Linked DNA regions of Homo sapiens. The protein of the gene in region 2 binds, or shares a complex with, the protein of the main gene of each other region. Each region holds a gene or a part of one and is shown on either strand. Other genes may lie near its edges.

Region 1 (6,960 bases), about 71 Mb from region 2:
GAGTGCAGTTGCATGATCTCAGCTCACTGCAACCTCAGTCTCCTGGGTTCAAGCGATTCTCCTGCCTCAGCCTCCCGAGTAGCTGTGATTACAGGCACGTGCCACCATGCCCAGCTAATTTTTGTATTTTTACTAGTGATGGGGTTTCGCCATGTTGGCCAGGCTGGTCTTGAACTCCTGACCTCAGGTGATCCGCTGGCCTCAGCCTCTCAAAGTGTTGGGATTACAGGCGTGAGCCACCGCCCCTGGCTGACTCCAAGGTTTTTATGCTGAGTGAGAGGAAGGATGGATGGAATTTTTGGTCACCTGATATGTAGAAAGCTGCAGGAGGAGGTTTATAGAGGGAAAAATTAGAAGAATGAGGCCAAAGCTGGAACAGGATGAAAGGATGAAGAGGGAAGTGAGGATCTTTTTTTTCTTTAAAGATGAAGGAGCTGGGCACAGTGGCTCACGCCGGTAATCCCAGCACTTTGGGAGGCTGAGGTGGGTAGATCACTTGAGGTCAGGAGTTCAAGGCCAGCCTGACCAACGTGGCGAAACCTCGTCTCTACTAAAAATACAAAAATTAGCCAGGCGGTAGTGACACGTGTCTGTAATCCCAGCTACTTGGGAGGCTGAGGCAGGAGAATCGCTTGATCCCAGGACCGGGAGGTTGCAGTGAGCCGAGATCACACCACTTCACTCCAGCCTGGGCGACAGGGCAAGACTCTATCTCAAAAAACAAAAAACAAACAAACAAAAAAATGTTGAAGGAAACCAGGGCACATCTGAAGGCTGAAGAGAACAGTTCAGTTGAAAGAGAGAGTGGTGTGGGGCTGTAGAAGAACTAGACTCAAAAGAAGCAGTGCAAGAAATTTATGAAAGAAGAGGTGAAAAGTCAGGTCTGTGGGTATGAAAGACAGACTTGGTTACTTCTGTAGACATGCCTCTCACGTCCCCTCTTGTCACCTCCCATCATCACTCCTTCCCATTCACTCCAGATACACCACATGTTGCCTCACTGATGGACACACCATATCGATTTTCTACCACTATGCCATTGCTTGGGCTGTTACTACTAACAGGAGTACTCACTCTGTTCTTCCCTCTCTCACTAAACCCTACTTATCCTTCCAGACCACTCTGGTCTAAGTCCCCAGCATCTCTAGCCTGGACTACTCATCCCCTTGCTTCCACCTTCACTAATGAGTCTGTTCACAGCTTCCAGAGGGATACTGTCAAATCATAAATCATATTTCATCTATGCTCAGGGCTTGTCCAGGCTCTCATCTCACTCAGAGTAAAAGCCAAAGTCCTCACAATGGCCTACAAGGCCCTGCCTGGTCTAGCACCCCCATCTCCTTTCTGACTTCGTCTACTACCCCTTCCCCTTACTCATTCCACTTCAGTCACACTGGTCTCCTTGGTGTTCCGCAAACACTTTAGGCAGTGTCTACCTTCAGGGCCTTTACATTTCCTGTTCCCTTTGCTGCACACCTCATTCAGATAATCCTAGGATTCAAGTACGTTTTTAGCATCCAGATACCCAGATTCATTTGGTAATGCTTCCAAAATGATGACAGGAGAAGGGGCAGGTGGCGGGCCTCTAGCACACACACAGACTTTCCCTGCTACGTGCAGGGACACAGCCTGGCGGACAGGGCAAAGAAAGGCTGGGGCAGGAGGGGGACAAGGGGCCAGCTCACTGTCTCTGCCCGGGGTTCGCTGTCTGCCCCTTCCCCGCTGGGGGTGCATCCTTTCTGGATCATGGGGATAGCGAGCGTGGGGTCGACACCCGCATTCTCTCTCTCTTCCAGAGACTTCTTGGATTCTAAAGGAAGAATAGGAGGGAGCAATGAAGTCCCACTCTATCCTTCCACCTTCTTCCTCTTCTTCCTTCAATGGGGAAGGGTAAAGGGGTATCACTCACCCGCAATGAGCTCCTTCACAGCCTGGGACACCACCCCATCCGCCAAGGCCCCAGTATCTGTGGATGGCCCAGGGGGCCGGGCTGGTGGCTGCCTGCGATGGCCATTCTGGATCAAAGGGATGACGAGTTCCTTGGGGGCCTCCTGGGGCTTCACACTGATGTGGACACAGAGGGGTGGGGTTGGGAGAATGGCAGGGTCAGTGGGTCACACTCCTTCATTCAGAGAAAACACAAGAGCCAAACTCACCCCAGCCCCACAGACCATGTCTTCCCTACTCCATGTCTGGATCTCCTGTTCCTCTCTGATCGTGCATTCTCTGGATTATCTCCCCAGTGCCCCCAACTCATAAATGTCAGTGCCTTCGAGAAATAAGTCCTGCACTCTCTGTTTAACTCAATACCGGCTTCTACAATGGCCCACAAATCACTATCTTCAGCCCAGACCTTCCCCAGCTCCAGGTTCCCAAACAGCTTCCTAGATGCCTGATTCTCTTCTGGAAATCCCTCCCTCAGACCCCTCAGACACTCCTCTCCTCATTAAGCTGATGGTGGCCTCCATCAACCTGAATCTGCCGCTCCATCCCGTTCCCCATATCGGGGACGCCTCAGCCCTTCAGTTGAGACACTAGCAGGTCCTGTCATTTTCTCATTCTTTCCTTCTCCCAGAACGCACAGACCTTAGTGTCTTCAAGTCCTAAAGACACTTCTTCTCAGTAATACATCCTCTCTTCGCAATTCCCACAGCTATCAGGCCCAATTTCCTCACCCCCTCCTATAAACTCCCGCCTTCTGGCCTCCACGAATTTACTCAGGCTGTGCTTCAGGCTTAACAGGTCACTGTCACCAAGACAAACAACTGAGATTCCTCCCTCCCGCTTACGCCCACCGCAGAGATTTCCAAGGGGTGAAAGACCCGGCGCGTCACCTCTGCAGCTCCCTCCCTTCCACGGTTTTCAAGAAATCCTTCTCCTCCGGAGATGGCCCCGCGCCGTCTCCCGAGTCGGCCAGCCGCCTCCGTGCGGACGTGCGAGTGAAGCCGAATGAAATTGGGGCAGTGGAAGCAGCCGTCAGCGGCAAAACACCCTCTTTGGAGTCAGCCATCTTGCTCCTTTTCCCAGGCCGGCGCGCTGCTTGCTGGGAAATTTAGTTTGGGTTCAGATCGCTAGGGGCCGGCCAAAGTGCGTAAAAACTACCTTCCCATCAACCACTGTGGCACCGGCGGGAGGGGGCGGTAAGGGGCCGTGGGAAGTAATTGTCGCTCTTTCAAACGTGGTGGGAGCGCGTCGCGCCAAGCGCCCAGGGAAATGTAGTTTTTTTTTTGTTTGTTTTGTTTTGTTTTTTAAGATGGAGTCTCGCTCTGTTTCACAGGCTGGAGTGCAGTGGCGTGATCTCGGCTCACTGCAACCTCCGCCTCCCAGGTTCAAGCGATTCTCCTGCCTCAGCCTCCCGAGTAGCTGAGACTAAAGGCATGCGCCACCACGCCTGGCTAATTTTTGTATTTTTAGTAGAGACGGGGTTTCACCGTGTTAGCCAGGATGGTCTCGATTTCCTGACCTCGTGATTCTCCTGCCTCGGCCTCCCACAGTGCTGGGATTACAGGTGTGAGCCACCACGCCTGGCTGGAAATGTAGTTTTTAGCGGGGTAGGCATGGTGGAAGGTGGATTCATTCTTGCCAGACATTAATCTTCCTTCGTGTAGGCGTTTGACAAGTATTTATGGAGCGCCTAATGTGTGCCCTACTTATGTGGGAAGTGTTGATGAAGTAAATCATTTAGAAATAATCAGCTGGGTGTGGTGGCGCGCACCTGTAGTTCCATTTACTCCGCAGGCTGAGGCAGGAGGATGGCCTGAGGCCTGGGAATTCGAGGCTGCACTTAGCTCTTATCGCACCACTGCATTCCAGCCTGGGTGACAGAGCGAGACCCCATCTCTAAAAAAGAAAAAGGTCGGGGGTGGGGGGGATGGAGCGTCAGTTGTGTACAATAATAAATAATAGACATAAAATAAATAATAGACATAAAAAACCCCGTCTCTACTGAAAATACAAAAATTAGAGGGGTGTGGTGGCTCATGCCTGTAATCCCAGCATTTTGGGAGGCCGAGGCTGGTGGATCACCTGAGGTCAGGACTTTGAGACCAGCCTGACTCATATGGTGAAACCCTGTCTCTACTAAAAATACAAAAATTAGCCGGGCGTGGTGGTGGCGCCTGTATCCCCAGCTACTTGGGAGGCTGAGACAGGAGGATTGCTTGAATCCGGGAGACAGAGTTTGCAGTGAGCCGAGATCCTGCCACTGCACTCCAGCCTGGGCGACAGAGCGAGACTCCGTCTTAAAAAAGAAAAAAGAAAGAAAGAAAGAAATAGTGCCTATTGGCCAGGCTCATACCCGTAATCCCAGCACTTTAGGAGGCCGAGGCGGGCGGATCACTTGAGGCCAGTAGTTCGAGACCAGCCTGGCCAACATGGTGAAACCCCGTCTCTACTGAAAATACAAAAATTAGCGGGGTGTGGTGGCGCATGCCTGTAATCCCAGCTACTCGGGAGGTTGAGGCAGGAGAATCGCTTGAACCCGGGAGGCGGAGGTTACAGTGAGCCGAGATCTCAACACTCCGGCCTGGGCTATAGAGTGACACTCAGTCTCAAAAACAAAAGAAAAACAAAAGAAAAACAAAAAAAAAAAAAAAAAAAAAAGAAAAAGAATAGTGCCTACTGATGTCAGATTTTAATACTCAACAAGGCACTAGATTCAAATATCAATAAAATAGGCTGGGCACAGTGGCTCATGCCTGTAATCCCAGCACTTTGGGAGACCTAGGCGGGCGGACCACCTGAGGTCAAGAGTTTGAGACCAGCCTGGCCAACATGGCAAAACCCAATCTCCACTAAAAATACAAAAATTAGCCGGGTGTGGTGGCACATGCTTGTAATCCCAGCTACTCGGGAGGTGGAGGCAGGAGAATCGCTTGAACCTAGTAGGTGGAAGTTGCAGTGAGCCAAGATTGCCCCACTGCACTCCAGCCTGGGCAACAGAGCGAGACTCTGTCTCAAAAAAAAAAAAAAAGAAAAAGAAAAGAAAAAGAAAAAAAAGAAACTTGTAGTCTAGTAGGGAATACAGACATTTAAATACATATTTTAAAAATATAGCAACATGTGCCGAGCTTAGTGGCTCACGCCTATAATCCCAGCACTTTGGGAGGCCTAGGCAGGAGGATTGTTTGAGCTCAGGACTTTGAGACCACCCTGGGCAACCTAGTGACACCCTGACTCTACAAAAAAATTTAAAAATTAATGGGGTGTGGTGGCGCACATCTGTGGACCCAGCTACTCAGAGGGCTGAGGGGGGAGGATCACTTCAGCCCAGGAGGTTGAGGATGCACTGAGCGGTGATCAGGCCACAGCACTACAGCCTGGGCAACACACACACATATACATATAGCAACATTAAACATATTGTGAGAACCAGGTCCTAAGGCTTCAAAGATTACTGATATGAAGGAAAAATGAAGCAGTCAGAAAATTAAAAAAAAAAAAGATTATTGAGACAGATCTCTCTTGTGTAGGACCTCAAGAGTTCATACAGGCAGGGTGCGGTGGTTCATGCCTGTAATCCCAGCACTCTGAGAAGCCGAGGCAGGTGGATCACTTGAGGCCAGGAGTTCAAGACCAACCTGGCAAACATGGCAAAACTCTGTCTCTACTAAACATACAAAAATTGGCCGGGCATGGTGGCAGGCGCCTGTGGTTCCAGCTACTCAGGAGGCTGAGGCATGAGAATCGCTTGAACCCGGGAGGTGGAGGTTGCAGTGAGCCGAGATCACGTCATTGCACTCCAGCTTGGGCGACAGAGTGAAACTCTGCCTTAGAAAATGAAAAAAAATTTAAAATGAAAAAAAAAAAGAGTTTATACAGAGTGGCTTATACAGAGTTGCTGGGTGTGGTGGCTCACACCTGTACTTTCAGCACTATGGGAGGCTGAGGCAGGAGGATTACTTGAGGCCAGGAGTTGGTGGATACAGTGAGCTATGATCGTGGCACTGCACTATAGCTTGTGTGACAGAGCAAGATCCTGCCTCTAAAAAAGTAAATAAGTAAAATAAAAATAAAATAGTTTGTACAGTAGATGACAGATACTTAAATATTCTTAAGAAAGAGTAATATAATTCTGCTACAAATTAGGCTCAAGGATATCATTGAAGATGTGTAAAATAATTTTTTATGAGATTCATTATCATATTATTGTGGCAAAAGCTTGAAGACCACTTAAATTATCAACAGAAGGGGATGCAGTAAATGAATTACAGCACACACCTTGGATGAAAGAAATACGCCTTTACATTGGAAGTTGTAAATAAATATATATATATAAAATATATATATATATACATATATATTTTTTTTGAGACAGGGTCTCACTCTGTTGCCCAGGCTGGAGTGTAGTGGTGTGATTTCGGCTCACTGCAACCTCCACCTCCCAGGTTCAAGCGATTCTCGTGCCTCAGCCTCCTGAGTAGCTGGGATTAGAGGTGCCTGACACAACGCTGGGCTAATTTTTCTATTTTCAGTAGAGGTGGGATTTTGCCATGTTGGCCAGGTTAGTCTCAAACTCCTCACCTCAGGTAATCCGACTGCCTTGGCCTCCCAAAGTGCTGAGATTACAGGCGTGAGTCACTGCATGACCAGCTGCTATAAATATAATTAAATGGACTGGGCACGGTGGCTCATGCCTATAATCCCAGCGCTTTGGGAGGCTGAGGCAGGCAGATCCTCTGAGGTCGGGAGTTCGAGACCAGCCTGGCCAACATGGTGAAACCCCATCTGTACTAAAAATAAAAAATTAGCCATGTGTGGTAGTGGTTACCGATAATCCCAGTTACTCGGGAGGCTGAGGCAGGAGCATCGCTTGAACCCAGGAGGCAGGGGTTGTGGTGAGCTGAGATTGTGCCACTGGACTCCAGCCTGGGTGACAGAGCTAAACTCCCTCTCAAATAAATAAATAAATAAATAAATAAAAGAAAAGAAAAGAAAAAAATATAAAATTGAATGAAATGG
Region 2 (6,018 bases):
GCCTGTAGTCTCAGCTACGCGGGAGGCTGAGGCAGGGGAATCGCTTGAACCGGGGAGGCGGAGGTTGCAGTGAGCTGAGATCGCGCCACTGCACTCTAGCCTGGGCAAGAGAGCGAGACTCCGTCTCAAAAACAAATAAATAAATAAATAACCAAGACAGCAAGGAACATTTCCCATATGTGAAGCCTGTGGTGCTAGCTACCAGTTCCCCAAACACAACCCCTCTCCCCAACACCTTGGCTCGGGTATATTTTGTAGTACAGGCTCCCAAGAGAAAGAATGCATGAAAGTACTTTGTAAACTATTAAGTGATACAGAAATGTGATATAATAAACAGGCTCAGAGGTCTTGCTTTCATCATGGCTTTGGTTACTTCGAGCAAATTATAGCTCTTTTCTCAAACTACTCCCACCCCTATAATTTATGCCAAAGTGTTCTGAAAAGAAACACAGGCAAAATGGTTATCCTAGGGCTAAAAATCCTGATTATACCTACCTTGAAGCTTTTAATCCAGGACCCTACTTCACCACCCGCCTGCTCTGTCACTTTCTCTACAAAGGAAGGACACGAAGTAAGACTTCCAAAAGAACAAAACGTTTATTTTTTAAATTTAAGAATTATGGGAAACCTAAGTAATGGGAATTGCATCCTCATCGGGGTCTTCTGGCAAGTCGGAAGCACCACCCTCTCCTGTAGCTCGATGCTTCTCTAGTTTAGCAATCAATTCTTTCGCTGGATTGAAGACGCCATTGGTCTGCTGGTCACAGACATAGCAGCGCGGGGTGGTGCGGAAATGCTGCAGTGCACAGCTCTCGCAGAAATAATGCCTGCACTTGGTGACAACTGGGTTTTGGAAGCTCTGGCGACAGATGAAACACTTGAATGGTATTTCCTCATCATCGCTTCCCACTTCATAGTTTTCATCCTCATAGACACCATAGCGACCCTCATCAAGCTCACGTTCGATCTGCCACCCATGCTTGTAATCTGAACGGTCATGGAGGAATTTGCAGCTGTCTCCGAAGCCGCAGAAGCCAGTCTCTTTGTAGTCCTTACAGATGTCGGGCTGGTAATCCCAGCGCACGGTGGCACGTAGATGCTCGGGCGCTCGGATGGGGCCCTTCCTCACCATCCCGGAAGAGGCATTGCCCATAGACGTATCCTTGGGCTTCATGTATTTCTGATAATTGTTGATTCCCCGATAGATCTTGTCATCCTCCTTGCCCCTCAGCTCCTCCTGGATCTTCTGGCTGCGCTCAAAGATGGCTTGTGCATCGCGCTCTTTCTCTGTGTCCAGCTCATAGACAGCTGTCGCTCCCATATCCTCTGGTCCCACGGGTTTCGCCGAACGGGTGGATTTATAAACCACGCCGAGACTCTCGGGCTCATTTTCCTCTTCCTCTTCGCTGCTCAAGTCGCCGTAAGCCGCCTTCTGTTTACCACTGTCACGGGTCTTCTGTATCATTGGATTGTGGGTCACCCGCTTCTTTTCCGGTCGAACCACAGTGCAGCCTTCGTCGCTACTGCTGCCGCTTTCTCCGGGCTCTGGGTCGCAGGCCGGGCGCTTTCTGCGTCCAGCAGCCCCTTTCCGCCCAGGCTTTTTGAAAAGGAAGGTGCACACCTGATCCACCGCCTTTCCTGGAGAAAGCTGCTCTGCCATTTTAGAGTCCTGAGCTCCGAAACAGCCGTGGCTGCCTGGGTTGCACTTGGCCCCTGCACGTCACTCCACGTTGCGCGCTCCGCCGGGAGTCGAAGCAAAAGACACTGACGGAAGAGGACTGCGAGAGCCCGAGCGCCCGTCTCTCTTGTGCCCTAGCAGATTCCGTCGCTTCTTCCGGAGCCGTACGTGGCACCGCCCCGCTCGCGGGCGGCCGCGGGGCTTGCTGGGAAGAGAGGCGAAGCCAGGTCACCTTTCAAGGACCCAGAAGTAGGGTTTTGGCCTAGGTAACGGGGCAGAGATGTGGTTCGAGATTCTCCCCGGACTCTCCGTCATGGGCGTGTGCTTGTTGATTCCAGGACTGGCTACTGCGTACATCCACAGGTTCACTAACGGGGGCAAGGTAAGCCGGCTTCGGCCCGGGGGCCGACTCCACGGGCTGATTTCCGAAAAGGGTGGTGGGCAGGGAGACCGTCAGCCTGCGAACCCTCTCTCCGAGGTCGGCCCTCTACTTGCTTCCGGTTGCCTAGAAGCCGAGGCTTGCGAAACGAAGCCCGATAGAAACTACATCCTGCTCTAGTGAAAAACAGCGTTTCTGGGTGTATCAGAGTGGGCCTTAGGGCAGAGTAGCGACGCGGGGGCCGGGAAGGTAGATTAGAAAAGGTGGCTCAAGCCTGAGAATCGCTCACTGCAACCTCCGCCTTCTGGGTTCAAGAGATTCTCCTGGTTGGGCGCGGTGGATCACGCCTGTAATCCCAGCACTTTGGGAGACCGAGGCGAGCGGATCACCTGAGGTCGGGAGTTCGATACCAGCCTGACCAACATGGAGAAACCCCGTCTCTCCTAAAAATACAAAATTAGCTGGGCGTGGTGGCGCATGCCTGTAATCCCAGCTACTCGGGAGGCTGAGGCAGGAGAATCACTTGAACCCAGGAGGCGGAGGTTGCGATGAGCCGAGATCGCGCCACTGCACTCCAGCCTGGGCAACAAGAGCGAAACTCCGTCTCAAAAAAAAATAAATAAAGAAAGAAATTTTCCTGCTTCAGCCTCCCGAGTAGCCGGGACCACGCCTGGCTTTTTTTTTTTTTTTGTAGAGGCGGGGTTTCATCATGTTGGCGAGGCTGGTCTCGAACTTCTGACCTCGGTTGATCCACCCGCCTTGATCTCCCAAAGTGCTGGGATTACAGGCGTGAGCCGCCGCGACCGGCCACCCTTGACTTTTTTATTCCCCACTTTCTCTTGCAAGCCTTTAGGAATTTACTGCGAGATCTTGTTTTTTTACATCAGGATTCATTTTCCCCTCTTCCTAGTCCTTCACATCATCTCAAGAGTACAGGATATAAATTTATTTACTTTTTGATTTTGTTATTGTTCTTCACGTGTGATCTACAGCTGTTGTTTCTTAGTGTCCCAAAAGACAACAACTAGATATTTCTTTTTTTTTTTTTTTAAAAAAAAAGGAAAAAAAATTCATGTTGGTTAAAATAGTGTAAAAAGTCACAGGTACCAACTTAATCCTAAAGTTTAGTGGTCTGATTTTATTTAGGAGATTCTGTTCTTTGTACTACTAATTTGCATTTTTATTTAAACGATGATTCCATTTCTCTGGAATGTCCCTTTTAAAAATTGTAGTATCTATCAATTGGGTCACTCACTTTTATAAACTGCAACAATAATTGTCTCTTATTTGAAGGAAAAAAGGGTTGCTCATTTTGGGTATCACTGGAGTCTGATGGAAAGAGATAGGCGCATCTCTGGAGTTGATCGTTACTATGTGTCAAAGGTAAGATGCCACTCTGATGCCAGCCTTTTGCCAGGGTTGAGGTGGGTTCTGGTAATGCCTTGCCAAGGGTCATACAGTGCTAATATATAACTAGCATTTTCTTATCTACTAGTGAGGTTGGCATCTTTTTACATATTTAATCTTTTATATTTCTTTTTTTTTTTTAGTTTTTCTTCTGTCATATATTTCTTATTCTGTGGATTGTTGCCTATATCCTTTGCCTGTTCCATTGTCTTTTTCTTTTTGAGCTATGGTTCTTTATATATTCTAGACTTTAATTTTTTTGTCTATTTTATATATGACATTTTTCCCAGTCTGCTGTTTGTCTTTTTTACTTTATGATGTTTTTCATCAGGTAGTTCTAAATTTTGATATTCAATGTATCATGTTTTGTTGTTCTGGATTCTAGGTTTTTATGTCTCCCGTACAAAGGCCTTTTCTATCTAAGATTATAAAAATACTTTCAAAAAATAAAATAGAGACAGTCTTGCTGTGTTGCCCAGGCTGGCCCTCAAACTCATAGGCTCAAGTGATCTTCTTGCCTCAGCCTTCGGAGGAGCTGGGACTGCAGGTGTGCCACTATACCTGGCTCATAAAAATACTTTTAAAAAATAATTTCTCCTAATATTGTTAGTTTCTTTAAAAAATTAGTTATTTGGTTACATCTACAGGTCATTTTGGAGTATAATGTGAAAGGAGGATTAACTTTACTTTTTTCCAACAGGTAGCTAGTTATCGCAATTACCCATTTATAGAAGAGTTTAGTAGTCCTAGCTACTCAGAAGGCTGAGGCAGGAGGACAGCTTGAGCCCAGGGGTTTGAGGCTCCAGTGAACTAGGATCGTACCACTGCACTCCAGCCCGGGCGAGAGAATGAGAGCCTGTCTCAAAAAAAAAAAAAAAAAAAACCACCAAGCACCCAATTTATTTTTATTTGTAATACCACTCTGGTAAACTAAATTTCCATGTACACATGGGCCTGTTTCACGGATGTGCTTTTCTATACTCTAGGTCTGCCTATTCCTGCAACAATACTTCATTTAAAGAATTACTATAATTTTATATTTTGATTCAATTATGACATTGCCATTTTTGTAGGTCAAAAACGACCAAGCAGTAGCATTTCATAAGGCTCAACTTAATAGTATATTTTTTGTTTTTCTGTCTTTTTTTTTGTTTTTTGAGACAAGGTCTCACGCTGTCACTCAGTCTGGAGTGCAGTGGTGCAATCTTGGCTCACTGCAACCCCCGCCTCCCGGGTTCAAGCGATTCTTGTGCCTCAGCCTCCTGAGTAGCTGGGATTACAGGCACCTGCCACCATGCCCAGCTAAATTTTTTTTTGTACTTTTTGGTAGAGATGGAGTTTCACCATGTTGGCCAGGCTGGTTTCCTAACTCCTGACCTCAAGTGATCCGCCCACCTCAACCTCCCAAAGTGTTAGGATTACAGGCGTGAGCCCCTACTCCTGGCCCTAATAGTATGTTTTTATATTTTGTAGGAGTAGTTCATTCTCATACTTCTTTTAAAAATGTTTACTTTTTAATATTTTCTCCTTCCTCATTTATTCCTCACAACAAACCTAAGTAAATAGTATTTCCATTTTATAGACAAGGGTCAGAGTGATTAAGTAATATTATAAGGACTCAACCTGGGTGATACACCTCTCAGTAGAGAGGTAGTTGAGAATCTAATCCAATGAACATGATAATAGATATCTACTTATCTGGAGCCATATTTCTCAAAGTATGGTCCAAGAATAACCATCAGAATCACCTAGCATGTGAGACAGAATTAGGATTTCTAAGAGATGGCTCCAAGGAAGATACAGTTTTAACTTCTCTTAAGGCAGTTCTTCCTGTAATAGTAAACCAAATACCTGGACTATGTTATTTAATACCTAGAAGAAGTGTCATCACTGATGAGTCTTTTTTTTTTTTTTTTTTTTTTTTTGAGACGGAGTCTTGCTCTGTCGCCTAGGCCGGAGTGCAGTGGAATGATCTTGGCTCACTGCAAGCTCCACCCACCAGGTTCAAGCAATTCTCCTGCCTCAGCCTCACGAGTAGCTGGGATTACAGGTGCGCTGTAATTTTTGTACTTTTAGTAGAGACAGGGTTTCACCATCTTGGCCAGGCTGATCTTGAACTCCTGACCTCATGATCCACCCACCTCGGCCTCCCAAAGTGCTGGGATTACAGGCGTGAGCCACCACGCCAGGTGTAATCTTTTAATTTATAGCTTCTGAAGTATTTGGTTGTCAACTTAGTAAGATCCAGTAGGTATTTTGAATAGATAGTGTAGTGCTTGTCAGAGAAGGGTTCGGGAGTTGGGGTCCCTGAATTCTGGCTCTGCTAATTCCTTATGGACTTAAGCAGGTGACTTTTAACCTCTCTGAGCCTCCATTTCCTCATTTGTAAAAAAAATGGAATGAGAATAATAGTATCTACCTCATGTTGGCTGTTATTTTTTAAAACAGATTTTACCTTCTTGTCCTCTGACTCACTGAGGTGCTTTGTAAAAGGATCCAGGTGGAGGCCAGGCATAGTGGCTCACACCTGTAATCCTAGCACTTTGGGAGGCCG
Region 3 (3,500 bases), on a different chromosome or scaffold from region 2:
TGACACCATGATACGGTGCACTGAAAAGAACAATGCCATTTCTGTGGTATCCCCGCCAAAAATGTATAAGCTCAGTCTAATCATCAAGAAATACCAGAAAAACCCAGATTAAGAGTTACTCTATAAAAAGTCTACGGGTTGGGAACAATAGACACTGAGGACTACTAGAGGAGGGAGGGAGGGAAGGTGCAAGGGTTGGAAAACTACCTATTGGGTACTATGCTCACTACCTGGGTGTCGGGATCAATGGTGCCCCAAACCTCAGCATCACGCAATATACCCATGTAACAAACTTGCACATATACTCCCTGAGTCTAAAATAAAAGTTGAAATTAAAAAAAAAAATACAACTGGCCCATAACCTTGGCATTTTGAAAGACTGGCTGAAGAACTGCTCCAGAATAAATGAGACTACAGACATGACAACTAAATGTAATGTTACTCCAGAGTGGATCCAGATCAGACTTTTTTTTTTTTTTGCATATTACTGAAACAATTAGCAAAATATGAAAAAGATTTGATAATAGTAAAGTATTAATGTTAATTTTCTGATTTTGGTAATTGTGCTATGGCTATGCAGGAAAACACCCTTGTTCTTTGGAAATACAAACTTAAGTAATTGGGGTAAAGAGGCACCACATCTAGTAAGGAATATTCAAATGGCTCAGAAAAAAGTACTTACTCGAAGTTGATGATAAAGGGAAACCTCTTCCTTACAGTAGAATGATGACTAATTAATACAGAAATAATAATAGAGTTAGAACAATCACAATTTTGGAAACATCCTAGTAAAAATTTATTCAGACAAGAATCGTCAAAGGATGCTAAACCTAGGAGGGGTAGATTTGATGAGGAACAGAATTGTCAACAAGGTCTCAAAGTTTCTCCTCACAAATTACCCACTAATTGCAAAAGGAAAAACAATAACGATACACTGGAGAAACTGGACATCTTACCCAAGTGATCAAAATTAGCATCACCAATAAGGGACAAATGGACATTCTGTGCATCTGGATGTATACCTGCAATACATATCACTTACAGCATTTCAACCCTCACTGCACTACCCCAATCTAACCATGAGGAAACATCAGAAAAACCCAAATAGAAGGATACTCTATCCTTTAGCTGTCCTGTATTTTTCAAATATATTACTATTATAAAAAACAAAGAAAAGCTGAGGAACTGCTCCAGATTAGAGGGTTATGGCAATACAACATATGATCCTAGGCTGGATCGTGGAGCTGAAAAAAATTACCAATAAAACAGCAAATGAAATTGAAATATGGACTGTAAAGTATTATGGCAATGTTAAATTTCTGAACTTGATAGCTGTACTTGGGTAAGACAGCATGCTTGTTCTTATGAAGTGCATGTGTAGTGTTAAAGGGTAAAGAGTATGATGTCTACAATATACTTTCTAATGGGTCGAGGATTCTAGGATACACACCCCCAGTTAAGGGAACTGGGAGTTAAAAGGTATTCGAAGGCTGCCATAAGGATGTAAAGAGTTAAGTCTCTACCCTTACACCCACTCCAGAGAAAAACAGTACTATTAGCTTCCTGTGTTTTCCACATGGATACAAAAACTTTTGCACACATATGTAATTCTTCTATCATTCTGACAGCTATATATTCTAATGGATGAATATATAAAATGTACTTAAGTGTTCTATTGGCATTTGTTTCTAGTATCTTTTATATTACAATCTGATATCTTAACAGATTCTTTCATCACTTTTACATTTATTTTGATAAAAGTTAGGTTTGGCTTTAATTCCTTGTTTTTAAACTTTTTTTCTGCATTTTTCAACTCTGGCTGTGGCATAAGGCCTTAATTCTGTCATCTTATTTGGTTATAGTGTCTGTTTGTATGTCTTCCTTTTAAAAATATTTTATGTTCATGTTTTGTTTTAGGGTTTTCCTCCTCATCTAGTAAATACTTCTATTCAATTTATGACCATCATTATTATTATTTAGAGAATATGGAGATGGTTCTGAGGTACAATACAACAAAAATCTTCATAGGAGAACCTAAGTGCGGCCACTGGATGATCCATTCATGGAAGGAGGCTACTCAAAGTATGAAGATAAAATGTGAGCTGGACAAGAACTACAAAACACGCTGAAAGAAATCAGAGATGACACAAACAAATGGAAAAACATTCCAAGCTCATGAGCTAGAAGAATCAATATCATTAAAATGGCCATACTGCCCAAAGCAATCCACAGATTCAATGCTATTCCTATCAAACTACAAACATCATTTTTCACAGAATTAGAAAAATCCTGCCGGGTCCAGTGGCTCACGCCTGTAATCCCAGCACTTTGGGAGGCTGAGGCGGGTGGATCACAACGTCAGGAGTTCAAGACCAGCCTGGCTAAGATGATGAAACCCCATCTCTACTAAAATTACATAAATTAGCTGGGCATGGTTGGCGGGCTCCTGTAATCCCAGCTATTTGGGAGGCTGAGGCAGGAGAATTGCTTGAACTCAGGAGGCAGAGGTTGCAGTGAGCTGAGATTGCACAGCTGCACTCAGAGCCTGGGAGACACAGCAAGACTCCGTCTCAAAAAAAAAAAAAAAGAAAAAATCCATTCTAAAATTCATATGGAACCAAAAAATCAATCCTAAGCAAATAAAACAAAGCTGAGGTATCACATTACCTGAGTTAAACTATACTATAAGGAAGCTACAGTAACCAAAACAGCATGGTACAGATATAAAAACAGACCCATAGACCAATGGAATGGAACAGACAGAAATAAAGCTACACACCTACAGCCATCTGACCTTTGACAAAGTTAACAAAAATAAGCAACAGAGAAAGGATTCCCTAATTCAATAAATGGTGCTGGAACAGCTGTCTAGCCATATGCAGAAGACTCAAACTGGACCCCTTTCACCATATATATAAAATTACCTCAAGATAGATTAAAGATTTAAATATAAGGGGCCGGGTGCAGTGGCTCATGCCTGTAATCCCAGCACTTTGGGAGACTGAGGTGGGTGGATCACTTGAGGCTCGGAATTCAAGACCAGCCTGGCCAACATGGTAAAACCCCATTCCTACTAAAAATAGAAAAATTAGCCAGGCGTGGTGGCATGTGCCTGTAATCCCAGTTAGGTTGGGAGGCTGAGGCATGAGAATCGCTTGAGCCTGGGAGGTGGAGGTTGTGGTGAGCCAAGATTGTACCACTGTACTCCAGCCTGGGCAACAGAAGGAGACTCTGTCTTTGGGGAAAAAAAAAAAAAAAGATTTAAATGTAAGACTTCAAGCTATAAGAGTCCTAGAAGAAAACCTACGAAATAACATCTGGACATCAGCTATGGGAAAGAACTTACGGCTAAGTCCTCAAAAGCAATTGCAACAAAAACAAAAATTGACAAGTGGAACCTAATCAAACTAAAGAGCTTCTGCACCGCAAAAGGAACTATCAATACAGTAAACAGACAACCTACAGAATGGGAGAGAATATTCACAAACTGTGCATCTGAA

The links. Proteins that work in one complex are often made in the same cells at the same time.
Region 1: RNF113A (region 2) and GPKOW share a complex: the UniProt entries of both Homo sapiens proteins name them as parts of the minor spliceosome.
Region 3: RNF113A (region 2) and CRIPT share a complex: the UniProt entries of both Homo sapiens proteins name them as parts of the minor spliceosome.

The regions. Positions count from the first base shown.
Region 1 is NC_000023.11:49,120,713-49,127,672, forward strand, and holds the start of GPKOW (G-patch domain and KOW motifs-containing protein), read right to left. Parts: upstream 3,024-6,960; 5' UTR 3,011-3,023; coding exon 2,835-3,010; intron 2,065-2,834; coding exon 1,910-2,064; intron 1,811-1,909; coding exon 1,686-1,810; intron 1-1,685. UniProt on the Homo sapiens protein: RNA-binding protein involved in pre-mRNA splicing. As a component of the minor spliceosome, involved in the splicing of U12-type introns in pre-mRNAs.
Region 2 is NC_000023.11:119,869,954-119,875,971, forward strand, and holds RNF113A (E3 ubiquitin-protein ligase RNF113A), read right to left. Parts: upstream 1,781-6,018; 5' UTR 1,661-1,780; coding exon 629-1,660; 3' UTR 522-628; downstream 1-521. Other genes in the region: NDUFA1 (NADH dehydrogenase [ubiquinone] 1 alpha subcomplex subunit 1), read left to right, coding at 1,959-2,060, 3,351-3,440. UniProt on the Homo sapiens protein: Required for pre-mRNA splicing as component of the spliceosome. As a component of the minor spliceosome, involved in the splicing of U12-type introns in pre-mRNAs. E3 ubiquitin-protein ligase that catalyzes the transfer of ubiquitin onto target proteins.
Region 3 is NC_000002.12:46,627,200-46,630,699, reverse strand, and holds the end of CRIPT (cysteine-rich PDZ-binding protein), read right to left. Parts: 3' UTR 524-3,500; downstream 1-523. UniProt on the Homo sapiens protein: As a component of the minor spliceosome, involved in the splicing of U12-type introns in pre-mRNAs. Involved in the cytoskeletal anchoring of DLG4 in excitatory synapses.